7 linked regions of the Homo sapiens genome follow. The protein of the gene in region 3 purifies or fractionates together with the protein of the main gene of each other region. This does not show direct contact. Each region holds a gene or a part of one and is shown on either strand. Other genes may lie near its edges.

Evidence for each region.
Region 1: the proteins of NHSL3 (region 3) and ASAP2 purify together in Homo sapiens (affinity purification with mass spectrometry; one large-scale study listed by BioGRID and IntAct). This does not show direct contact.
Region 2: the proteins of NHSL3 (region 3) and WASF3 purify together in Homo sapiens (affinity purification with mass spectrometry; one large-scale study listed by BioGRID and IntAct). This does not show direct contact.
Region 4: the proteins of NHSL3 (region 3) and PPP2R3A purify together in Homo sapiens (co-immunoprecipitation; one large-scale study listed by IntAct). This does not show direct contact.
Region 5: the proteins of NHSL3 (region 3) and NSA2 purify together in Homo sapiens (affinity purification with mass spectrometry; one large-scale study listed by BioGRID and IntAct). This does not show direct contact.
Region 6: the proteins of NHSL3 (region 3) and NHS purify together in Homo sapiens (affinity purification with mass spectrometry; one large-scale study listed by BioGRID and IntAct). This does not show direct contact.
Region 7: the proteins of NHSL3 (region 3) and ARHGAP26 purify together in Homo sapiens (affinity purification with mass spectrometry; one large-scale study listed by BioGRID and IntAct). This does not show direct contact.

What each region holds. Positions count from the first base shown.
Region 1 is NC_000002.12:9,402,312-9,405,811, forward strand, and holds the end of ASAP2 (arf-GAP with SH3 domain, ANK repeat and PH domain-containing protein 2), read left to right. Parts: intron 1-941; coding exon 942-1,016; 3' UTR 1,017-3,367; downstream 3,368-3,500. UniProt on the Homo sapiens protein: Activates the small GTPases ARF1, ARF5 and ARF6. Regulates the formation of post-Golgi vesicles and modulates constitutive secretion. Modulates phagocytosis mediated by Fc gamma receptor and ARF6. Modulates PXN recruitment to focal contacts and cell migration.
Region 2 is NC_000013.11:26,556,503-26,560,482, forward strand, and holds the start of WASF3 (actin-binding protein WASF3), read left to right. Parts: upstream 1-1,180; 5' UTR 1,181-1,317; exon of another isoform or gene 1,318-1,663; intron 1,664-3,980. UniProt on the Homo sapiens protein: Downstream effector molecules involved in the transmission of signals from tyrosine kinase receptors and small GTPases to the actin cytoskeleton. Plays a role in the regulation of cell morphology and cytoskeletal organization.
Region 3 is NC_000001.11:32,744,830-32,748,329, forward strand, and holds part of NHSL3 (NHS-like protein 3), read left to right. Parts: intron 1-3,500. UniProt on the Homo sapiens protein: Able to directly activate the TNF-NFkappaB signaling pathway.
Region 4 is NC_000003.12:135,968,728-135,972,227, forward strand, and holds part of PPP2R3A (serine/threonine-protein phosphatase 2A regulatory subunit B'' subunit alpha), read left to right. Parts: intron 1-3,500. UniProt on the Homo sapiens protein: The B regulatory subunit might modulate substrate selectivity and catalytic activity, and might also direct the localization of the catalytic enzyme to a particular subcellular compartment.
Region 5 is NC_000005.10:74,766,086-74,770,048, forward strand, and holds the start of NSA2 (ribosome biogenesis protein NSA2 homolog), read left to right. Parts: upstream 1-1,163; 5' UTR 1,164-1,275; coding exon 1,276-1,278; intron 1,279-2,845; coding exon 2,846-3,033; intron 3,034-3,128; coding exon 3,129-3,279; intron 3,280-3,963. UniProt on the Homo sapiens protein: Involved in the biogenesis of the 60S ribosomal subunit. May play a part in the quality control of pre-60S particles.
Region 6 is NC_000023.11:17,689,700-17,693,199, forward strand, and holds part of NHS (actin remodeling regulator NHS), read left to right. Parts: intron 1-2,635; coding exon 2,636-2,769; intron 2,770-3,500. UniProt on the Homo sapiens protein: May function in cell morphology by maintaining the integrity of the circumferential actin ring and controlling lamellipod formation. Involved in the regulation eye, tooth, brain and craniofacial development.
Region 7 is NC_000005.10:142,776,877-142,780,376, forward strand, and holds part of ARHGAP26 (rho GTPase-activating protein 26), read left to right. Parts: intron 1-3,500. UniProt on the Homo sapiens protein: GTPase-activating protein for RHOA and CDC42. Facilitates mitochondrial quality control by promoting Parkin-mediated recruitment of autophagosomes to damaged mitochondria.

The sequences.
Region 1 (3,500 bases), on a different chromosome or scaffold from region 3:
GCCTCGTTTGCCCTTAATGGATTGAAAGTGTCTGTGGCCTGGGCGCGGTGGCTCACGCCCATAATCCCAGCACTTTGGGAGGCCGAGGCAGGCGGAACACTTGAGGTCAGGAGTTCGAGACCAGCCTGGCCAACATGGTTCTCTACTAAAAATACAAAAAATTAGCTAGGTGTGGTGGCAGGCACCTGTAATCCCAGCTACTCGGGAACCAGCCAGCTCCCACAGTTGCCCACAACCCACCATCCGGAAGGGGCGCCAACCTGACCACAGGCTTAGCCATGTGGAAAATACCTGCTCATTTCCAAAACTGGAAAATAGAGGCATAAAGAAGAAAACAGAAGTTGCCCATAACCACAGCACCCCCCACCCACTCCACAAAAAGCCCACCATTCATATTTTGGCTGTTTTTAGCCTTTTATTTGCCTACATCATTTACACTCTTGAGATCATATTTGGATATAATTTATGTATCTACCCAAGAGGGAACATAAGTGGATAGAGTGAAGCCTTCCACAAGTACTTAACTCATTGAAATGGGGCCAACTTATACCTTTGCCACTTTAGGTGACGTTGCAGCTCACAAACTTGTGACACTCAGTTCATTCATTCATTCATTCATTGAAAAATGGCAAGTGGGAAGTAGTGGTCAGACAGCTGACCTGTGTGCCTCCCAAGAACAGGTGGGGGTGGCCATCCCCACGAGCGAACATCTGGGACATGGCTGGGAAGAGCTCCTTACACGGGAGAGGCCTGCACTATTTGAAATGTGGTGAGGAAAAACGGACAAAAATCATTTGGATGTTTTACCTAAGTAATTCCTTGTCGGAAGAGTCTTCTGAACCAATCTTGCTTTTCTTCACCAAACGCTCTATGTAATGCTCTTCAAAGTTTCCACCAACATTTGGAATTTTAATAACAACCTACACTTTTCTCCATTTCAGATTGGCCACATTGATGGAGATCCTGGTCGCAAAGGCGCATTCCCGGTGTCATTTGTGCACTTTATCGCTGACTGAATTGCTACTGAACAAAAGCATTAACAGTTATGTTCCTGTTTCGTTATTGGTACCAAAACTCTTGCCAGATAACCAGTTTCATGAACTGTTTGTATGGCAGCCCATGTTCTCTAATGCCACTGCTCTGTTTTAAAAACTCAGAGGCAATTTTTACATATCAGTAATTGTTTTTATAATTTGTGGTTTTCATGAAACATTGCTATGCATTTATTAGGAAAAACTGAATTTCCCAACAGGTGAACTGAAAAGTTATTTTAACTATTATACATAATCAAGATCCTGCCTCTACGGAATTAGCTAAACCTAAAAATGTTTGCATTAATGAATAAATTCTTCCTGCATTCCTTGGCCCAGTTCTGGAGTTGGTGACCTTTATCACAATTATTATTTTAGGCGGCCAGTGAACTGCTGCTTCAGAAGTCCATAGCCCAGCTCTGAACTTTCTCGATAAAATGCCATCAGTTCACCTTTAAAGACACACATTCCTTTGAAATCCACCCAGTGTTTAAAAAGCAACTTGGAAATTTACACATTAGCATTGTACTTTCTAGCCCTAATTTGTGAGGTTGCAGCTATCATTATATTCTGCATGTATGTATAACCTGTTGTGAACAATCATACTTAACAAAACTACTGATGGTTTATGACAACGTAGGGTAACTACAGTTCATTCTGTTCCAGGTTATATAAAACTGCATTTCCTGAATTTGGTTAAAAACTAAGGATGATGGATTGCAAAACAGTTCTTTTAAATTAGTTTATATGCTTTAGGTGTTTTGGAATTTGCCTTCTTGAACTTCCTGAGTCACACAGAAAGCAACTGTACACAGTAGAATTCTGTGGCGCAGACCATGCTGTATTAACACATCACTTGCTGTTTCCTACTGAGTGTACCACTGCCTTCCCTTCTAGCCCAGGAGAATGTTTACTCAGTTTAGTGTCTTGTATTTCTATAATACTCCAACAGGAATGGTAGTCACACTGTCTTGAAATTGAATCTGTCCATCTGTTTATAATCAAGAACATATCAGAAATATATAGGTCCCAGGTAATACTCCCAAACATCCCACTTTTTACTGTTTCAGGCCATCATATCATTCTTAAGCTACTTGGGGTGGTAGTAGAGGATTAGGTTGTCTATTATAAAACCAAAACTCATTCGTTTAATGAACTTGACTGTCATACCTCTATTTAGTAATTGCGAGGGTAAGATTCATAGTAGGAATATTGGAAATTTTGGCACTCTGAGAATAAATAGGCATATGATACCCACTTGGACTTTTAACAAAAGTAAAGGAATAAATTTGCATATAGGCTTGGAAAGTGAGGCAGCAATGCTGTTAACTGCATTTGTTGTGATGGTGCATTTGATTGAAGCAGCTTGTCTTTATTATGCAAGACTGTGTAGAGTTTTTTTTTTTTTTGGCATTGTACTTTTTGTTTTTGTTATAAAGGAAGACAGAACAAACTGGAATGTTTTATGATGTTGTATAGCAATCGCTTTTTACCTTTCAAAGTTCCGGGTAAAAATGTGTTATATCTGTAGTTTTTTGTTTTTGTTTTTTTTTAAAGCACTACATCTGTTTTCACTAATTGTTAATTTCTGTTTGAACCCTTCATTTAATTTTCTCATAGATTTAAGTAAACAGATGTATTTTGCACAGTGCACTTATGTCTATTTTAACAATCCTCCTGCATCTGTATTTTATAGTCAGCCTTTTGACCACCTGGTGCCAGCTATATAAGGAATAAAGTTGATTCATATCAACATTAGAACTCCAGTCCCAAACTAATCTGTCAGGTTCACTGGTACATAAATACCTAGGAAATATTTTTCCAGTCTACAATTTGGTGCTATTGTGCAGTAACTAATAGTACTCTTACCAGAGGAGAAATTATATTAACGACCCTGCTAATATCCTTTCTTAGTTATTTGCTCCTTGCAAATTAAAAAAGCAACTAAGAGAAAGAAAAACATTGTAGATATCTATTTATATTTAAAGTTTATGTTTCATGAACTGCAGCTGCAGGATTCTGGCATTTTGCATGCCATTCTCCATCAGATCTGGGATGATGGCTCAGAACATGTACACAGACTAAGAGTAACTGTGTGATCTGTTAAGGGGTGGATAACATAATATGCAGCTTAGGATGCTATTTTGAGATGTATGATATTCAGTTCATTCACCTGATTACTTTGGTTGCAGCACAACTGTATATATTGTATAACCGAAATTGATTATTTTCATTGTCCTTAATGCAGTGATTTATAATTAGAGCATGTTTAATAAGTTTACTCTTCTTGTTAACTAGTCATTTGACTGGAAAAAAATAAAATACTTTTAAATGGACATGGTTTTATTTTTAATGTTTTTAATCTTTAAAGTTTTGTATATTGACAGTCCTTTAAAAAAAGTACACTATCATACTGTACATGGGATCTTTACATACTTTTAGCATGAGCGGTAATCTTTTAAGGTTCTC
Region 2 (3,980 bases), on a different chromosome or scaffold from region 3:
CAATTTTTTAAAATGATGGCACTTTATGGAAACTGAATATACGTCATCTTTAAAAAGAGCTTTTAAAATCCCTCCTTTGGAAGTAATGCAGGTTAATAGATTAGACATTTTATGAAGAGGGCTGCATGATTTTTCTACTGCATTTCTGGTGTTGCAAACTTTGGTGAAATTATTAACTGCTATTCATTTTTTCCAACTTTTAGTTGTCTCTAGCTAGATGTTGATCATTATTACACATCTGTAAAGAAAAGAGCAAACCAACTTGAATTAGTGTTTCTTGAACTATTCATTAGAATTTAAAATTTTTTCCTAAAAGTTTTTCAATTTAGTGATCCTATTGGTAAATAAAAAGAATAAAGGCATGCAAATTAAAATAAAGGTAACATTTCTATTAGATGTTTTTAAACCCCTTTCCTTTGTGACCTAGCTTTTCTATCTTGGCTTTTCTATCTTTTCTTCTCTTCCTTTCCTTTCCTCCTTTCTTTTTCTTAAGTTTGTTTATGCCTCAGTCATCTGGTCGCACGTGGCTATGTTCCACTGTGGCAGGGCTTAGCTGGCAGTTTCAGGGATATCTTAGTTTTAATAAGTATTGTGGATTTCCTCACATCTAGGGTGGAGAGAGATTGGTTATAGGGTGATAAAAACAGAAGAATCTGTGTTGAAGGAGATGGGAAGATTTTAAGAATGCTAACGAATTTGAGCAGGGCATAAAACCAACCCATGAACAGGGCTACAGTCCTCTCAGGGTTGCCTGAAGCCTCAGCCCTGGAGGACGTCTGACACCTTACAGGTAGAGGACCTCTGTGCAGGAGCCCTCAACACCCAGGGAGGATTAGGATATAAGCGCAAACTCAAAGGTACTGTAATGGGCACCTAGCAATCAGAGGTGATACAAGGGTCTCTTGGCCCGAAGTATCCCCACCTCTCCTCGCTGGAAAGGACGCTGCCTAAGCCTCATCCCGAGCTGGGGGCGGAGGACCAAGGGTGAGAGCCACCGCCTCCGCAATCCCCCGCCCCTCGGCACCGTCGCTCAGCGCGCTCGCCGGCTCCCTATTGGCCGAGGCACTCGCCAATCCTGGTGAAGCGGCCCCGTGAGTTGGCCCTGGTTGGTGGAGCCGGCACTGAGCCCCCCTCCTGCTCCGGCCGAGCCCCCCCGCCGGGAGGGGGCGTGGCCGCGGCCGTGGACGGGCCGGAGGCGGCGTCGCTCGCGCCGCTGCGTGCGGTGTGGTGCGAGGCGGGTGCGCCGGGCGGCCGCGGCGCGGCGGGACCATGGAGCTCAGAGCGCAGCCCCGGCGCCGGCGGCGGGACCGCGGACCGGTGAGTGAGGGCTGCGGTCGCCCCGGCTCTCCGCTGTAGGCTGCTGTGGCCCTCTCGGCTCCGGGCCGGGCGGCTGTCGGGGGAGGGGCGGCCCCACGGCGAACTGAAGTTGCTGCATCGCCGCGCGCTCCGGCCGGGCGGCGGGGCCCACTGCGGGCTGCGGCGCCGCCTCGCGCCTATCCCTGCAGCCCGGCCGCATTCTCCCGGCCGGCTCCCGCGCTGGCAGGGGCTTCTCGCCGTCACGGCGCGGCCAGGCGGCCCTTCTCTCCCGCGCCTCCGGGCCTCCGGCCCTTTGCCGTCCGGTGCGCGCTCCCTGGACTCGGGACAGCCACCCGCCCTCCCCGCCGTAAGTGGCGCCCGGGCCTCCGCTCGCGCCCCACGCACGACGCCCCGGGCCGCTCCGCGTCCGGGACCTTCGCATCCGTTCAGTGTCTGCGCGCCCTCGCTGGTTCTGGTCCAGCTCCGCGTGCCCCCCGGCCCCATTCGGCCCTCGCCGCCCTGGCCTGTGCCCTCTTGGTGCCCGCGTGCGTGTTGGTTGCGGGCGTCCTCTCCCTCGAGGCTGCGGTGCCGCGTGGCTCCCGGCCTCGGAGACCAGGCCGGACTCTTGGAGTGCAGGGGAGGAGGTGGGGCGGCCCGCGAGTGCGGGGGACCGCGCGCACGGAGCCGCGGCGCGCGGGGTATCATCCCCGGGGGTCTTTACCCGCGCGCCTGGGCTTTAGCGAGGGCAGAAGCTTCCTCTCAGTTTGTGGTGCTGACGTGCAATGGCGATTGCTTCTTGATTTGGCCCCTCTGCAAGGGAGAGTTCCCTGGTGGAGACGAGAGTTCTTAATTATTCAGAAACTATGTGATGGGCTTAGGGATCAATGGGAGCATCATAGGAATTCTTTCTCATTTTAAGGTTAATTTTTAAATTAGCGGTTTACTTCCAGCAACAGTCTCGAGTTTTCAAAAACTGAAAATTAAAAAGACTACTTTTCGCAGTTCTTCAAATTAAATGCATAGCAGAACATGGTATTTTAAGATTCAGAGTCTACTTTTTATAAGGGGGAGAGGATAGCTATTTGAAATATTTTGCATCTTAAAAATTAGGTTTATCTAAAGCTTAAAATGCGACTCTATCAAAACTAAGTTCAAAGTATTGTAATTGACTAATCTTTCTATTGTCTCTAGGGCAAATTCTATTGCTTCTTTTTATATGTGCTTTACCCAACTCTCCTTTTCTAGCAGTTAAACAATGCAGTGGTTCTTTAAAGCTAGTTCTTTTATCTGCTTGAGAGGTTAAACAAACGAAAGCTGGGTTTGACCTTTCCCAAAGGCATTCTCATTGTGTCCTCTCCAGCTCCCTTCTCCCAGGGTTCTAATGACTTCAGTGTAGTACTCATTTTTCTTCATCTTGAAAGATTTTCTTAGTTGGTATTCACAAAAGCTGTGTCTTTTCACATGTTTAAATATTGGAAAGTTTGGTCAACTATTATATTTACCTTCCAACCTGTGCTTATTCTAGAACTATGTACATATAGAAATTGTTCTTGCATTTCCAGTTGGCTGACATGAAGTTGCTTAATAGCATTTGTTTTTAAAAAATCTGTTTGCTTTAAAATTTACAACCTAATAGTCAATGATGTGCTTCACTATCTTCAACAATTACGAAAACAAAGGTGGAACACACTTTGCTAAGTGGTCATGCCAACATTGTAACCTCCTATCTCTTGTCAGTGTGTCTTTGTAGTCACACGTTACGGTTCCCATAGAAACCTATGTATGGCAGGTAACCTTTTGGTTATTGGGATGTTTTGATTAAAACAATTGCGTTATAATGCAAGTATTAAATGAATTGTCCCTACTCACGGGCTAGTACTAGTGATCGTCTTTGGAATTCCAAGGACTTTCTTTGAAGAGTACTCCCAGATTGTTTTTCACTTTGGGTGGCTCTCCATTGCTGTAGACCTTGAATCTCTTTTTCTTTTCTTTTCTTTCTTTCTTTCTTTCTTTTTTTTTTTTTTTTTTTTTTTTTTGAGACGGAGTCTTGCTCTTGTCTCCCAGACTGGAGTGCAGTGGTGTGATCTCGGCTCACTGCAACCTCCGCCTCCTGGGTTCAAGCGATTCTCCTGCCTCAGACTCCCGAGTAGCTGGGAGTACAGGCGCCCGCCACCATGCCCGGCTAATTTTTGTACTTTTAGTAGAGATGCAGTTTCACCATGTTGGACAGATTGGTCTCGAACTCCTGACCTCAGGTTGATCCGCCCACCTCGGCCTCCCAAAATGCTGGGATTACAGGCGTGAGCCACCGCTCCCGGCCGAATCTCTCAACTTCTCTTCTCAGTCCGTTTTAAGGGCCCTGTTTCTTTCAAGTCAGGCTTTTTTTGGCTTTGCTCTTGGGCATGTGGAACTAAATGCTTCTGACAGCCCCACACATTCTTCTTCAGGGCTGGTTCTTTACCTGTGGCTTGACTTTATGCTGGTAATACAGAAATATTTTATGCCAGTAATACATAAATGATGTACATTATAAAATAAACAATATCAACACAGAGATTTATAGAGGTAAAAAGTCTTAAGTTTTCTTTTTCCCGTCTTATTGTTGTCCTATTCCTATTTCTTTCTTCAGAGGTAACCATAATATAGGGTGTATCCTTCTGGATTTTTTCCATTTAATACTGTAG
Region 3 (3,500 bases):
AAAATTATATTAAAGGCTGGGCGTGGTGGCTCATGCCTGTAATCCTAGTATTTTGGGAGACCGAGGCGGGCAGATTGCCTGAGCTCAGGAGTTCGAGACCAGCCTGGGCAACACGGTGAAACCCCGTCTCTACTAAAATACAAAAAATTTGCCAGACAAGGTGGCGTGCACCTGTAGTCCCAGCTACCCGGAAGGCTGAGGCAAGAGAATTGCTTGAACTCGGGAGGCGGAGGTTGCAGTTAGCCAAGATTGCACCGCTGCACTCCAGCCTGGGCAACAGAGCGAGACTCAGAAAAAAAAAAAAGAAAAAAAAAAGAAAATTATATTAAAGAGAAGTAACCATAGAAATGCAAGGGGTTGCTATGCCTGTGTTTATAAGTTTAGTCACCTGAGCTCTAACGACCCAGTCTGGAAGGAATGGGCTCTGGGCCTAAGAACAACTTTGCTTGACTGGGCGTGGTGGCTCACACCTGTAATCCCAGCACTTTGGGAGTTTGAGGTGGGTGGGTCATGAGGTCGCGAGTTTAAGACCAGCCTGACCAACATGGTGAAACCCTGTCTCTACTAAAAATACAAAAATTAGCTGGGCGTGGTGGCGCGTGCCTGTAATCCCAGCTACTCAGGAGGCTGAGGCAGGAGAATCGCTTGAACCCGGGAGGTGGAGGTTGCAGTGAGGCGAGATTGCACCACTGTACTCCAGCCTGGGCGACAGAGCGAGACTAGGTCTCAAAAAAAAAAAAAAAAAAAAATGGACAACTCTGCTTCCCTGGTCTGCCCCTCTCAAGCTACAAGATGCTGGCAGGTTATTCACCCCTCCAAGCCTCAGTATCCTTATCTGTAAAATAGGGATAATAAATCCTAGCTTTATAGGGGCCTTTCCAGGATCAAATGAGCTAACAGACATGCAAGTGCGTTGTGAACTGTGGAGCATGGTGCAGCTGGCAGCAGGTTTCTGCTGTTGTTATGCTGCTGAGGACTTGAGCATTAGTTAAGTTCACCCTGATCCATGTTTGGAAAACAGCCCATGATGATGATGATTATTGAGGGGGATTCACAGAGGATAGAGTCTCACCTTTGTCCCACAGGAGGACTCAGACATAAGAAAAAGTTAAAAAAACAGGCCAGGCACGGTGGCTCACGCCTGTAATCCCAGCACTTTGGGAGGCTGAGGCGGGCGGATCACAAGGTCAGGAGATTGAGACCATCCTGGCTAACATGGTGAAACCCTGTCTCTACTAAAAAATACAAAAAATTAGCCAGGTGTGGTGTCGGGCGCCTGTAGTCCCAGCTACTTGGGAGGCTGAGGCAGGAGAATGGAGTGAACCCGGGAGGCGGAGCTTGCAATGAGCCGAGATCGCGTCACTGCACTCTAGCCTGGGCGACAGAGCGAGACTCCAGCTCAAAAAAAAAAAAAAAAACAAAAAAGAACAAGTTAAAAAAAACAAAAACAAACAGGAATCCATATCTTCCAGAAATATCACCTGGACTCTAGACAAGTGTGTGGGTAGGAAGTGTTTCTGGGACAGATGCCAGGATTGGAGCCCAGCAGATAATCAGGGGAGGCTTTCTGGAGGAGGCGAGCGCCTATGGAAGGAGGGCAGGGTCCTGGCTAATCTGAATGGGAAGAGAAGTAACAGGAAGGCTGCTATGTGCTATATATACCCTGGCCAGGCATTTTCATCAAAGTCTTCCTATGTCCTTACAGCAACCTGGGAGGTGGACAGTTACCACCATTTGTAGGTGAGAAAAAAGGGGTGAGAGTAAGTAGCCCGAGGTCACTCAGCTTCATTTATTTGAAGAGGACATATTCTTTACTCTGGAGTGTAAGGCACTGTTCAAGGTGATGTGAATGCCAGAGGACCAGACAGGCAAGGTCCCCATCTATGTGGAAGTGAGGTTCACAGCATCACAATGACGGAGCCACTCAGTCTGCCTCCAGAGGCCACACTCTACAAAGAAAATTATATGATGATGGCTGTGTTTCTGACTCTGGAGGCAGGTAACCTCTCTAGAGTTTTAGACAAAACCAGTTTTGGGGAAAGGGGTATGTAGTCCTCCTGAGGGTTTCTCTTGTGCAGTGGGCAGCGGCTGAGGGGTGGGAGTAGGCATGGCTCTGATACTGAGAATTTGAGAGCTACCCTGCCAGGCCTAGCTGACTTAGCCCCATGTTAACTCCAGTCAGTTCACTGTGGCCTCTCCAAGTTCCCTCTGGCCACTCAGGGAGGACTGTCCTTTCATGGTGTGGAGTTGTGGAGAGAACCCTGAGTTTGAGTTCTGCTCTGTTGTATGACCTTGGGTAAGTCCTGCCCCTCTTTGGACCAGACATGCCCTGTCTTGACAAAGATGGTTTTTTTTTTGTTTTGTTTTGTTTTTTGAGACAGAGTCTCACTCTGTCGCCCAGGCTGGCGTGCAGTGGCGAGATCTCAGGTCACTGCAACCTCTGCCTCCCAGGTTCAAGCGATTCTTCTGCTTCAGCCTGGGACTACAGGTGAGTGCCACCGTGCCTGGCTAATTTTTGTATTTTTAGTAGAGATGGGGTTTCACCATATTGGCCAGGCTGGTCTCGAACTCCTGACCTCATGATCCGCCCGCCTTGGCATCCCAAAGTGCTGGGATTACAGGCGTGAGCTACCGCGACTGGCCGACAAAGATGGGGTTTAATGGCCTCTGAGACTCTTGCTAGTTCTAGGATTCTGTGAGTTTGAGAATGGGCTGAGGGAGCAAGCCTGTAGGGGCTGGGGGCTAGGCATGGAGATGGGAGCTGTGTCCAGGAAAGGAGAGCTGACCTCCAGCCAGCCAGATAAGACACTGAGACCCAGTGGCCTGGATGTCATAGGAAGGGGAGTAAGGTGGCTGGGCGTGGTGGCTCACACCTGTAATCCCAGCACTTTGGGAGGCTGAGACAGGTGGATCACTTGAGGTCAGGAGTTCAAAACCAGCCTGGCCAACATGGTGAAACCCCGTCTCTACTAAAAATACAAAAATCAAAAATTATGGCCGGACACAGTGGCTCACGCCTGTAATCCCAGTGCTTTCGGGGGCCAAGGCGGGAGGGGATCACCTGAGGTCAGGAGTTTGAGACTAGCCTGGCCAACATGGCGAAACCCCATCTCTACTAAAAATGCAAAAATTAGCTGGGCATGGTGGCATGCATCTGTAATCCCAGGCTACTCGGGAGGCTGAGGCAGGAGAATAGCTTGAACCCAGGAGGCAGAGGTTGCAGTGAGCTGTGATCACGCCATTGCACTTCAGCCTGGGCAACAAGAACAAAAAGCTCCGTCTCAAAACAAAAAACAAAAATTAGCCAGGCGTAGTGGCAGGCGCCTGTAGTCCCAGGTACTTGGGAGGCTGAGGCAGGAGAATCACTTGAACCCAGGAGGCGGAGGCTGCAGTGAACTGAGACCACGCCACTGTACTCCAGCCTGGGCGACGGGAGTTCAACTGGGCAACAGTTTCATTCAAAACTCAAAAAAAAAGGAAGGTGGGTAAGGAGAGTCCAT
Region 4 (3,500 bases), on a different chromosome or scaffold from region 3:
CACTGATACTAGTTTTGTATATCATTGTAGACATTTTTTGTGGGCATTCAAGGAAATGCATATCTTTCCTCTTACTGTTTTACACAAATGGTAGCATACTGTACACTCTGTTTTCTTAAAAATGTCTTGGGAATCTTTCCACTTCAGTATATAGTTTCCTTATTTTTTTGAATGACTGTACAGTATTTCACTGTATGGATATACCATAGATTATTTAACCATTCCCCCACTGACAGACATTTAGATTGTTTCCAGTAATTTACCGTAAACAGTGCTACGAATATGCTGTTTCATATGTGAATAAATATATTTATAGGGTAAATTCCTAGAAATGGAATTGTTGGGTGAAATAAACACACAAACACATATATTTACATAAGTATATATTTATGTAATGCGTGTATATGTGTATATATTTGTAATTATTTGTGATTATAAAATATTCTGGTCATATTAGAATGCTTTGGAAGGAAACAAGATTGAGTGTGGGAGACAGCTGCCCCTAATTAAGGTTACTGTGGATAACATAGGAGAGAAAAGGTGGTGGCTGAGAGAAAAGAATGGTCGTATTGGAGATGGAGAGAAGTACATATATTCATGAGATATATTTAGGAGGCGTAATTGATAGGATTTGGTGGTTGATATGGTACAAGGGTTGAGAGGGAGAAATGAGATCCTAAGATGACTCCCAGGGTTCTAGCTTGCCCAACCAGTGAATGGTGGTGGTGTTACCTGAAGTAAAGAACATTTAAGGATAAATAGTTTTGAGATGAGTTTAAATCACAGTTTACATTGGGACTGCTGAGATTTTCAAGTGAGAGGTCACATAAGCATTTGACAATTCTAATTCAGAGCCAAGAGCAGAGGGCTAAACTGGAGGCACGAATTTTTAGGTGTAAATTAAAGGCTGTGGATGAAATTATCTAGGGCAGTGGTTGCAAAGCAGTAGCCTACAGCTGAATCTGACTCACAGATGTTTTGCCCATACAGTGGTTTTGTTATTGTTTAATTTTGAATTAGTTGCCAATATTTTAAAATCTGAAGATTTCTCATGAAAAATCCAGATTTGGGGTTTCTCTTTAAAAATGAGAAAATGTAGCACTACTGAGTTGGTTTTCCAATATGGCAGCAATAATTGGAGCTAAGTCACAGATGATCGCAGCTCTTCTATTTCACTACAGAGCCCACCACTCCCTAAAATTATGCCTGGCCCACTTTGCTCATTTATTTCTCTGACTGTAGGCTTTTGAGCATGTGATCCCTGGTCTGGGAAGAGAGCATAGAACAGTGTTCTCATCTTGGTTGCACATTGGAATCACTGAATGATTAAAAAATGCTAATGCTGTGGTCCACCTAAGAAATTTCTTTTTCTGTTTACTTGATCTGATTTGCTGCCTTGGACGAATCTGAGGTGATTCCACTTAGCTGTGGAAGTTGAGAACCACTGACAGAGATTAAGAAAAAAGGGCTCAGGCCCAGCATTTTGAAGTTTAGTAGAGGAGGATAGCCCAGGAAGAGAATGAGAAGTGGCCACAGAGGTACAGTGGAATGACGCCTTGCTCAGAATTAAAGTGTGCAAACTTAACTGAATGCGCTCTACCATGTTTTTTATTAAATGAGAGAGAGAAAAGTTTTATTTACTTGTATACAGGTGTGCGATATTTAACGGGCCATTTAAAGGATTTTCAAGAGTAATTTAAACAATATTTGGTTTTTGTCTTAGCTGTTTCCTTCACAATCTAATTCTAGTTTAAGATGCATCATAAAAGGTGAGAGAAGAATGTTTCAAATAGAGAGGTGTCATCAAGTAAAGATGTGGAACAAAAATGATCTGTTGAATTTAGCAAGATGGAGTCTTTGACCTCAGCAAGAACCATTTTAGATTGGAAGAGGCAGAAACCAAAATGAAGTGGGTAAAAAGTAAGGAAATGGGAGTGGCAAGTGTTGGAAATTCCTTTGAGAAGCTTGCCCAAAAAGAGGAAGTGGTGAGGGAGGATGAGGTGTCTTACATGCCTACAATGTAGGTGTTAGTCTGTTGGTTACTCAAACATTTCTCCTAACTTTTTAGGGATGTAGGTCAATGGTGTCTGATTACCCCTCTCCCACGTTCTTAGGGGTCTTGTTTTGGAGACTACTTTTTACTGAGAAGAAATTTTGCCAGGACTGTTGAAGGGGCTGACTCAGATGTTGGTGATTAGGCCACAAGTTTCTTTCTCAACTGGAAAGCTGTAGAGCTCCTAAAGGCCAGTGGTGATCTGGGCTCCAGTGACCCTGACATCATCCTCCCATTGAGCTGATGAACAAAGACTATATTGTTGGTATGCTGAAAATGGAATACTTGGCTATGTTAGGGAATGTGTATCTAACTGTGAGATTCCCAGGAATAGTTTTTGCAGCTGTATTTTTTCCAATTAACTTGATATTATAGCTTAATTTTCCAGTTGCATGCATGTAAAAACTCTCATACTTTGAAGTATTTATCATTGATGGTACCTGAGGGATATGGATGTAAGTTGGAGATGTAGGCCCTCATTGAGCTCAGAAAGAAGAAAGCACTGAGCAAACTGGTTTCCAAAAAGTTGTGTGAAGGCTTCTACCTCGAAGACTTGGTGTTAGAGTGACTATTTAGGATGGGTTGTAATGCAAATGGTCACAACCAGTTTGTCTTTTATCCATTTCTGCCACATTGGCAACCTTAACCTAGCAGAGAGGCTTTTAAGGTCAATTTTGTGCTTCATATTTCTAAGAGTTGTAGCCTGCCAACAGAACAGAAAATATAAGGGGTGGAAAATGCCAAGAATTATTGGTTAAGAATGGTTTTGATTAATTGAAGGCATAAACCTCATTGCTATACTCTTGAAAACAGGAATATCATCTTGTGAGGGACCAGACTTCATAGCTGTCATTGGTTTATCAGTTAGGTGGATGATGGTTAACTTCTGTATAAAGGATGACTTTGTGACATGAAAGCAGACCTTGGTCCAAGATGGTTTGTAATGTGAGTCCATTATAAGAAAATATCTTATTTAGAAACTTGTGTATGCTTGGACAGCTGTGGGAATTCCATCATCACAAATATGGTTAGGTACTATGCCTGGCTGGCAGTATATAGAGGCAAAAGTCCATTACCAAGGTGGTCCAGAGCTCCTTTGGTTTGTGGAGGAAACAGGATAGCTGAGTGGGGAGAGGACTTGGAGTCAGTTCCTGAGTATAGTTCCTGGATTTGTCAAGGGTGAACTGTGTGATTTTTTTTAATTGAGGTAAAATTAACCATTTTAAAGTGTACAAATCAGTTACTTCAGTATGTACATTCACAATGTTGTGCAGCCATCACCGCTAATTCTGGAACATTTTCATCACCCCAAAAGGAAACCCTGTACCCATTAAGCAGTCACTCGCCATTCCCCTTTACCCCTACCGTCTGGCACCCGCCAATTTGCTTTCTGTCTATATGGATTTGCCTGTTCTGAAGATTTCATATAAATGGAATCATACAATAT
Region 5 (3,963 bases), on a different chromosome or scaffold from region 3:
GCTCGTACCCGGGAGTTCGAGACCAGCCTGGGCAACACGGTGAAACCTCATCTCTACAAAAACTACAAAAATCAGCCAGGCTTCGTGGCGCGAGCCTGTAGCTCGCTACTTTTGAGGCTGAGGTCGGAGGATCGCTTGATCCCGGGAGGTCGAGGCTGCGGTGAGCCGAGCTCGTGCCCCTGCACTCCAGCCTGGGCGACTGGGCGAGATGCCGTCTCAAAATACCCATAAAAACAAAAACAAAAACAAAATACTGCCTCAAATACAAGCACTAAGAATTAATGAAAGTATTCTTTTGGTACAGTTCTTTTTGTTCATCAACTGAATCACGCTGCAAGCTGTGAAGTAATTAAGGGAACTTCTGCAACTGTGCAGTAAAAGGGTAAACCTGATAGTGTATTTAAGTAGACGTACTTTCTGGTAGTTAATTACTTCTTGACACTAGGGGGCCACTAAATACAAGTCCACTCAGCATTTGATTCGGTGCACCAAAATGCCTCAGAAATTTCTGGAATCAGTCCTGTACCTCCAAAAAACCAGAATGTTATCTTCTTCTTTTCTAACAGCTGCAAAGCCCCAGTAGTTCCATTTTTCTGTACACTAAGTTTTCATTCCTCAGTATCCTTCACAATCATGCACACATTACACAGAGTGACCGGAACAAAGATGAGTCGACTTCGCCGAATGATAGAGAAAAACTTCCATACTGAGCGAACACCGAGGGGAGTCCGGAGGCCCTGTTGTCCTCTTCCGTGGCTGGCTGTGTCCGTCGCAGCCTGAAAGGTCAGCGGTACCCAGCGCTGTGACAGGGTCACAGGCGCGCGATGTCTCACAGCTCGGAGCAGTACTCACCTGGCATTAGGCCGCGTGCCGCAGGCCAGCTCTCACCGCTGGGCTCTTGAAGCAGGAGGCGCGAGCCGCGCCAAAGTCTGCAACGGCCTCAAGTCTCGACGCCAGCCTAGGCAAAAGGCAATGTATCTAAACGAAAAGAAAATAGGCTTTCTCCGCTCTACCGCCTCGGGCAGCCACACCTCCACACTTCCGGCGGTGTACCGGCCAAATGCCGCCTGCCAGCAACTTCCGTCCTCCTAGCTAAAAGCGGAAAACAGAGGCTCGGAACCGCTGCGTGGTTCTTGCTCTTCACTCGGCCGTTTTAAAGGGTGACTCTTTCCTGTCCCGGCCTGCGTGGTGTGGGCTTGTGGGTCTTTGAGACCCGAAAATTGAGAGCGTTTTCGCACTCCAGCGGCTGCTCCTGGCGGCTCTGCGGCCGTCACCATGGTAAGGAGGATGCCTCGGACGCTCGCGACACACAGCGTCTGAGTTAGTGGGACCTGAGGACTCTGGGGCGCTGGGGTAGGGGGTGAGCGGTGGTAGGCGGAAATGAGAACTGCCAAGAGAAAAGGATGGTAGACCCGTGGGGTGGGCTCTGAGGAGTGGAAACAACTTCACATTCGAGACACAGACGGTATTTGCCAGAACACAAGCTTTGGAGCAAGATTTTACTCTGTCCTGTTTTCTTTTTTCTTTTTGATCCACCGCTAAGAGTCCTAAAAATTCCTGATTTCACCACAAGCGTGGTTATCAGCCCCAGAGCCTAATGGGAATATGGTTGTCCCTTGTACAGTCTTAGATGTCAGTCCCGCCCCCTTCATTTTACTGCTGAGGAAACTGAAGGCGTCCTTGCCAAAGACCAGACAGCTAATGAATTGCGAAGCCGGGCTTAACGGCCCAGATCTAACTGCCAGGTCCTTTCTCTTTGTGTTACGTCTCTATAATCTGCGTTTCTTTGCAAAATGGCATTCCATACACCCTTCATGTGATTGCTGCAAAGTTTATGTGATAGCAGTTGGTAGCAGCACACCTTGTTGGTTGTTACTTAACATTGCTCTCTGTGCTGGACTTGGCTTTGTATCATTTTTATTTTTGCAGCCTTAAAATACGAATAGACTCACGCCTGGCCGCGTGTTTAAAACGTGTCTAAAATGCAAAAAGCATCCCATACATTGCTGGTGAAAAGAAAAATAATGCACTTTTGGAAAACGGTCTGGCAGTAAACACACGTCCACATGAAGACTTGCATGCAGTTGTTTATTGCAGATTTATTCGTAATCACCCAAAACTGGGAACAACCCTGATACCTATCATCTGGTCAGCGGGTAAACAGTGGTGTATCCATACAATAGCATACTACTCAACAATAAAAAGGATTGAAGTTCCTATACCTGCAGCAAATTGGGTGAATCCCAAAAGCAAGAAACCAGATTCAAAAGGCTATGTACTACTGTTGATCCCTGTTTCATTCTGGGAAAGGCAAAACTGTAGGGATAGGTATCAAACTGAGGGTTGGGAAAGAGGATTGACTTAAAAGTTACATAGGGAATTTTAGGGGGAAATGGAAATTCTTTGTATTTTGATTGTGGTGGTTACAGAACTGTGTAGTTAGGAAAAACTTAGAACTGTATACCTAAAAAGGACAGGTTTTACTGTGTGTAAATTATGCTTCAATAAAACTGACTTAAATTTTTTAAATGTGAAATGAAGGTGTTATTAAAAAAGCAAATTATGTCAAGGAAAAAAGATACTGTAATCAGTTCATCCCTTTTGTGGTCCAGTAGATTTTGGACCATTCCCTAATGAGATTATTAGAGATGTAAGCCCTGATGCCTCATATCATTCAAGACCAAAATTTAACTTACATCATGTGAATAAACTTAATGGTGCAAGAATCATTTAAGTAAGTGAACATTTGGATGAAACAGGGTCTTTGTGCTGTGTAAAAGAAAGCATTTTAGAATAATTGTCAGTACTTTAAAAAATTAAAATAATATTTCTTCCATCATTATAGCCACAGAATGAATATATTGAATTACACCGTAAACGCTATGGATACCGTTTGGATTACCATGAGAAAAAGAGAAAGAAGGAAAGTCGAGAGGCTCATGAACGTTCAAAGAAGGCAAAGAAAATGATTGGTCTGAAGGCTAAGCTTTACCATAAACAGCGTCATGCTGAGAAAATACAAATGAAAAAGACGTAAGTGGTCTCATTTATTTGTCATAACAAGTTAACATCTTTTGAGTAATCATTATTAAAACAGATAATCTTGAATCTTTTTTCCTTCTTGGTAGTATCAAGATGCATGAAAAGAGAAACACCAAACAAAAGAATGATGAAAAGACACCACAGGGAGCAGTACCTGCCTATCTGCTGGACAGAGAGGGACAATCTCGAGCTAAAGTACTTTCCAATATGATTAAACAGAAAAGAAAAGAGAAGGCGGTAAGCAATAACAATTGAAGTCTTTGTTTTGTTTAGGAGAATTACTTAAATTCAAATTTGAGGTTCTTGTTTCTCGGTTTAATTTCAAACATGAAGTACAGCTATTATTCCCATTATTTAGATGTTGAAGTCTTTGTAAATTTAATAAAAAACTTGCTTTCTCATCATAAGGTTTTAAAATTTAAGTTATAAAAAAAATTTATTAGAATGCCATATGAAATTAAAAAGCTGGTAAGGAGTGAATTTCAAATTCAATATTTGTCTTCCTGTTTGAAAACCCACAGTGCTATGCAGTCATAAAGAAAAATACAAATGCTTCTTATTTGTGCTGCCCTGTAGTGCCAAACTTGGTTAAAAAGTAGAATGGTGGAAAACTCCCTGAGTTGTCACAAAAAATGTGGCTTTTTAAAACACCTGTAAATAGATTAGCAGAAATCCAGATAAAAGAATATGCAGTATTTATATTTAAAGAATTATTTTTACTGCCTTACACTATTTCAGTTTTTTCATAGAATTTGCACTCAAGGGAGGCATAAAACATCTGGTGAGGATTTTGTCTTGCTAGTGATCTACAGATCCATCTCGGGAAGAAATACAGAGACATATTAAGAGGTGGAAACACTCTTCCAGTATTATGCTATTAAACATTAGTAAACACATATACTGCTTATAGAAGTCACTATC
Region 6 (3,500 bases), on a different chromosome or scaffold from region 3:
CAAGTTTTGCAAAAAACTGGTTGAACATTGAGGGCACAGGATGACTATAAAGGAATCTGATCGTTCTCACCAAATCCTTTCTCAGGTCCCATCATTAGAAATCTTGGGTAACATTAGCCCTTTAGGTATAATTATTTTTATCCCTTTATTTTATTAATAAGTCATCCCTGATTAGGATTTTATGGATTCCACCAGATAACACCAAGCTGCTCGTAAACTATCACATTTCACTGCTTTGTCAGGTTTAGACTTAAAGCAGAACTGAAGAACAGCAAGTGCCGATATCAATTTTCTCTGAACTTCCTCCTGTGGGGCGGTGAGAGAGGGATGTGGGGCCTCCTGGGGTTTGGAAGGAAGACTGTGGAGATGCGTTTTACCCTCCACAGACTGGCTTGTTTTGCGGTTGGCTCAATAGCATATCTTGGGTGTAGTAGTTTTAATAGCACTGCAGAGAGCCATAAACAAGAATTATAGCCATCATGGAATTAAAAACATGCAGTGTAGAATTAAAATTAGAAAGTGACTTTTTTTTTAACCTTGTCCAAGAAACACAATAGCATACTGCTGTATTCATCAGCATAATCTGCTTCTGCCATCTGGTGGCCATGAATAATACTGACCTATCAGACAACTGCCATGCTCAGCAAATGCTGCAGTGAGCATCCCTGTAGGTTCTCTATTTGGACAGCTGGAATAGCCTTGCTTCCACCATGAGGGAGTGGATAATGAAACACAGACAAATGAGGCTGTGGTGACAGCAGCTCTGTGCTTCTTTTGGAGGTGAGACTGTAAGGAGAGAGCTGGAGGACCAAGATTAAAACCTAGAAATTGGCTGCCTTCAAGATCTGCTTGATAGCAAACCCCCCAACAAATTTTATTGAAGGCAAGGGAGTGTTGTAGAACCTAAGAGTCAAAAAGCAATAACGTATGCTGCCCACAAGGAATCCCTGGTCTAGTGGAGAGACAGACAAGTAACCAGGTAATTTCAATACAGTGATAGGGAGGCTAAGAAGAAATGTACCAAGTCATTTCATAGAGCTTCAGGGAGGGTTTTGTGGAGGATGTAGCATCTACATGTATTTCAAGTTATTTAGGCTCTGATTACTTTTTTTCCCCCTTAGTAATTCTTTAATGCTCAGAGCCAGTAATGGCTTTATGTGATGCTATCATTTATGTTCATAAATCATGGAGAGAGAGATTCATAAGCAACTATAAATAGATAATTATATTTTATATTTCCTTTCCTTTCAAGTTGGAGGCTGCAGCATAAGTTTCATTGGTCTAAGGGAATAAGGAGCAAGATTCCACTGCAGTTTCAGGCTGTAGTGGACTAATGTTCTCCCTACCTCAGCACCAGAAAAAGGTATTATTAGGGAGCCATTAATCTAGCCTGCCTACTCCCAGCCTAGAGCAAAGAAAGATATATGTTTAAGATTGTGTAGGAGGGGAGCGATTGAATGGAAAATTGAGTTGATGTCTCCCTTCCAACTACTCCCCTCCTTTCACTTCTTCCTAACCAGTAACACCTGTAAGTGACTCTTCTGTACGGATTTAAGAATGTAAACACTTTTCCTTGTGTTACCCATTTAGAAAAGCCCACTGTTTGCTTGCATAATGATGGTGGCATTGGAGGTGGGCACTTTAACAAGGAAGACATTTATCTTAAACAGCCTTCGGATAAACATTGACTTTGGAGGCAGTTTAGCAAAGACTACCTACATGGTTTTGAAGACTTTGCTCTGATTGCTTATGGGAGCCAACATTTGTCAGAAGAATCCCAAGCAAAGGGAGATGGGGAATACTATCACATCTTCTAGACACAGACACTACGTTCAGGCAGCGAGGCACACGGACAGCCAAGTCAGACATGGATAGAATCAGAAAGTTCAAGAGTGCTCAGTTCCTAGTTTAGGGGGCAGCACATTGAATGGGGCAAAGAAAATGGAGCCAGCATTGGGCAGGCCTGTCAGAAACAAGTAACAGGACCTAGAAAAGCGCATGGCAGTAAAGGCACCCACCACAGCCCATTCGAAATACAGAGAAATGTAATACATTCTAATTTTAAAAGACTAGACTTTAATGAAAGCATAAATTCACTCTCAGTCACTCAGCAAACATGTGATGTAAATACTCCCAACATGAGTTATTTCCAGGTACCAACAGTTGAAAAATGGACTCACACAAATTCCTGAATATGTAGCAATCAGCTCCCCTGAGCCAGTGACAGCCAGCTCCCGTACCCAGTGGGTGGGCCGGGCAGCTCTGTTTTGTCTGTGCCTACTTTCCACTCCAGTACTGATGGCAGCAAATCTTCCACTATGTTCTCAACTTTTGTTGTTGTTGTTGTTGTTGCTTATGTTGTTTTGAAATAAGTCACACTGAACTCAGAAGTGAGCCCTCTTGTACAGATTATGAGATGGATCCACTGAAATGTATGCATCCAATTTCATATTAATAGTAAGTGAAAGTTCAATTAAAAACCATTCTGAAAATCTTATTTGGTATTCAAATTAGCTAAAGTAATGAAAACTCACTTTTTTTTTTTTTTACAGCCTTTTGCTAACACTCCCAAGGGGAAAAGAGAAATTGAAAATGCCAAGTGTATTTCAGTATTACTGCTTTTTCTCCTTCTCAGAACACCGGAGCCGGAGCGATCGCCGAGAGCAAAGAGCAGCTGCCCCCCTTTCCATTGCAGCTCCTCCACTGCCAGCCTACCCTCCAGCTCACAGCCAGAGGAGGCGTGAGTTTAAGGACCGTCACTTTTTAACGGTAAGTTTGGTGGCCACCTGCAGCCCTATGCTTGCTGCTGAGGAAACATCAGTTTGTCTGGGAGTCAGTTTCCTGCCTCCCAGTGAGAGAGGCTGGGCTGGCTAAGAGCTCAAATCATGGGCATTTGGGAACAAATTAATTTCCCTTCCTTTCATTCCTGAAAGAAACGCCTCTTTTTTGGAATACAGACATATTTTTTAGTTAACTGGTAGCACAATGCAGTAAAGCAAGAATAATTACAGACTAAAATCAGGAAAAAAAATACATACTTCAAACCTCGGTTCTTCTGCTTGCAAGCTGAAGGATTCAGGATAGGTTACTTATGTTCTTTGCCCTCAGTTCCCTCATCTGTAATATAGGGATATTAATAGTACCTGGTTTATAGGGCTAGAGGATTAAATGAGATAAGGCATGTAAAGTGCTTAGCCCAATGACTGACTGATACAGAGTAAGACCTCAAGAAATGTTAACCACAGCTGCCACTACTGTTATTACTGGTAAAGTGACAGCATGGCTGACTTGGTGGGGTGAACTGGTAAAGAACTTAAGTGATACGAAAAATTACCATTTGAAGAGTAATCATGTCATCATTTCATGCTTTCCCATTCTCCAAAGGAGGCTAGTTCTCCAGGGTAACTTAATACCATGGTGACGTCATCGCCTCTGGGGCTTTCAGCCCTGACCAGATGGATGTGGCTGTAACTCAGCCCAAGCCCTCAAGCATGGGTCAC
Region 7 (3,500 bases), on a different chromosome or scaffold from region 3:
CACCAACAATGTATGAGGATTCTGATTTCTCCACATCCTCGCCAATACTTGTTGTTGTCTTTCTTTTTGATTGTAGCCACTCTAGTGGGTGTGAAGTGGTATCTCGTTGTGGTTTTAATTTGCATTATCCTGGTGACCAATGAGGATGAGCACCTTTTCATGTGTTTGTTGGCCATTGGTGCGTCATCTTTGCTGAAATGTCTATTCAGATCTTTTTTTTCCTTTACTTTGTCTCATAAAACTTTTGATGATTAAGTGAACAGCACTTAGTATATTTTCTCCATTTGCCCTCTTTTGGGGACTATTTGTTTCCATGTGCTTCAACCTTAGATGTATTTAACTGATCAGTTTCAGGATCTCAGGAATTAGGAAGTGGTTCTTATGAGGCTGTGGTTCAGATTTCTGCTCTTGTTAGGCCAGTGGGCATCGCTCTGGGCAGATGCCACACAGGCTGGACTTCCTAATTCTGGCCTGCATAAGCTAATGATCCAAGCCCTCTCAATGGACAAAATGAGAACCGGCCAAGGAAGAACTGTTATCACCATTGAGCTACTGGGGAAAGCAAGTTGTAAAGGGGACTTTGTTATCCTGTCAAGGTCATTGCATTTCTAAAAATTAGCCAGTGGAGGAATACTAACCTAGCAGTCAAAGTAGTTTTTCTAGATTTAAGTTTCTGAGTGAGCCTCGTTTTACCTTTTAAAATTATAACCCCTTCTGTTTCAAATTATATATTTTTTGCCATCAGAAGAAGAGTTTCGTTCAGGAAATACGGAGACCCTGCTCTGCCTTTACCATGTCCTCCAGAGCCCTAGACTAGAGTAATGGCTTTTTGGATGGAGGTAACCAATGTAGGAGTCATTAGCGGGGAGATTGAGTGGGATGTTTGGGGGCCAGTGGCGCGGCCAGTTGTGACTGTAGCAGAGTGAAGGCGAATGCACAAAGAGATAGGCCAGGGCAAGGTCATAGGGATCTTGAATTCTAGAAAGGACTTAGAGTTTTATTCTAAGTGTGATGGGCAGCCATGGAAGGCTGTGCCATGATCGTACTCATACTTTAAAAAGATTATGTAGGCAGCTGTGTAGAGACCAAGCGTAGTGGAGCAACAATGGAGGCAAGATGACCAGTAAGGAAGCTGTTGTAATAGTTGAGGTGAGAGATGATGGCACCGTGGGCTAGGGTGACAGCATCACAGATGGTGGTCAGAGGCTGGGTATTTTTGGAAGTAGAGCCCACAGGATTTGCTGCACAGCATATGGGCTATGAGAGAAAAGAAAGAAGTCTAGAATGATTCAGATATTTTTGGCCTGAGCAGTTATGTGAATGATGGTACTATTTGCTAAAATAGTTTGCTTGGGAAGGATTAGGTTTAGGGGTAAAATTAACAATATGAATGAATGACCTAATCTTATAATGCAAAGACAAAATATTATGACATGGATAGTTCCTGAATACATTCTCATGCAAGCATCAAAGAGTATAGACGTATACAGTGTAAAAGCACCCCCTTTTCCTAGCTAACAATCATTGTTAGCAGTTTGGTATGCATTTTTTCTTGTCCTTTTTCTGCGTGTTTTTTTCATAAATGGGATTATACTATAAGGATTATTTTGTGTTTTGCTTTTCGAGTTGATCATTTGTCTTGAAGACCTTCCATGTCAGTACATGCATGTAGTGCATTCTTTTTAATGACTGCAGAGAGCTTTATGTGGATATGCCATAGTTGGTATTTACTCAGTTTCCTGTTGAAGGATATTTGGATTGTCTCTGTTGTTCACTATTAGAAGGCGTGCTGCAGTGATTATTTGCACACCTGCTTTTGTGTGTGGATTCCAGCATTTCCCTGAGATGGATTCCTTCAAGTGGAATGGTTGCTGGCTCCAGTTTTTACAAGCCCTTTGACATCTGTTGTTTAGGTCCTTTGCATCCTTGTAGCCGGTTGATAATTTGGTGCTCCTTTGAGTATGTTAGATTGTTTCTGAAGCTTAATCTTTTGGTTAAATCAGAAGCATCCTTAACAGACCCTTCTGTTAGACACTGACACTGATTTTAAAACAACCAAGGGATAGAAAAAAAAAAAAAACTTAGTGTGTGTGTATGTGTGCCAGGGAAAGAGAGATGACAATTAATTGGATGTGTCCCTATTAGCCCTGGAACTGCTTGATATGCTTTCTGAGTGGCATGTTCTTATAGGTCAGATGGGAGATGGGATGGGGCTTTGCCCATATCTAAGAGTCTATTCTAACCTCCAGGCTCAGGGACTAGGAAGGAAATCATGTTTATTTAGGGTGAGAACAACAGCATTAGCAGCCAGAGGAATTTTTACAAATTATAGTGACTGGGGTTTACACATTTTTGTAGCACCTCAGAATGGAGAGAGAGGAAATGGTAAGGAAAACAGCTTGGCAGTGTGGGCCACGAGCTGTCATGGCATGTTTGTGTCTGGCTCATTTCACCTTGATTGGAAGGCACAGAATGCTGCCCTGGGTAAGCTGGAGACTGGGCAGTTTCCTGCTATATTTAGAAAGAGGAGATTCCTGGGGTTAGGGTGGTGTGTGTGTGTGTGTGTGTGTTTTCTTTGCCAGATAGACAAAGGTTTGAGGGGTTTGTGAATTCCACACCAAACTGTTAACTAGCTGGTTTCTCTGGGCCAAGCCAGTAGCTACTCTTTGACTCTTGCTGCTGCCACACAGCAAAAGCTCAAAAAACTCCTATTTTATATGGTTTGAAAAGATACCGCTGGTAAGTTTCAAAACTCATCTGATCTTGCTGTCACATCTGCTTTTAAGTTTACTGCAGGCTAATTTGAACACTTTGAAAATATGAACTGCCTCCTCCTCTGAGACTTCAGATAGATCTCCAAGCTGACTGAGTTGAACTTTGGCTGTTTCTGTGCCAAGGAGACTGTCAAACAGATAGGACCAAAGCCTTAGCAAATTCCTGACTGCGTATCTCGTTATCACACTTGTGGGTCAGGGGTAGACAATGAATATTAGTCGAACAAATAAAATAAGGCATTTTTACTTTAACTCATAGCTATGTTTCTTTTTAAAAGGGTTGCCTAAATAGGTAATACCTATAAGTTGTTCATAATTCAAAAGAGACAAAAGAGAATGTGAATATCCCTCCAATGCTTCCTGTCTCCTGATCCCCACTTCTTCCTCTGGAGGCATTTTATTGGTTTCTTTGGTATTTTTCAGATGTAATTTATGCATGTGCCAACAAATACACATACACATTGTGCCATATGTGCTGTTTTACCCTTTGCTTTTAATATATTAGATATTATTCTACATTGGTACATAGAGAGCTCACTCATTGTTAGATTGCATTGTATTCTATTGTATGAATTAAATATAGTGTATGTAACCATTCCCCTAATAATAAACATTTAGATTATTTCCAACCTTTCACCATTGCAAGTAATGTTGTTGTGAACATCCTGGCACCTCTGGCATGAGGCACATGAGTGACAAATTCCTAGAAATGAAACTGCTGGACCA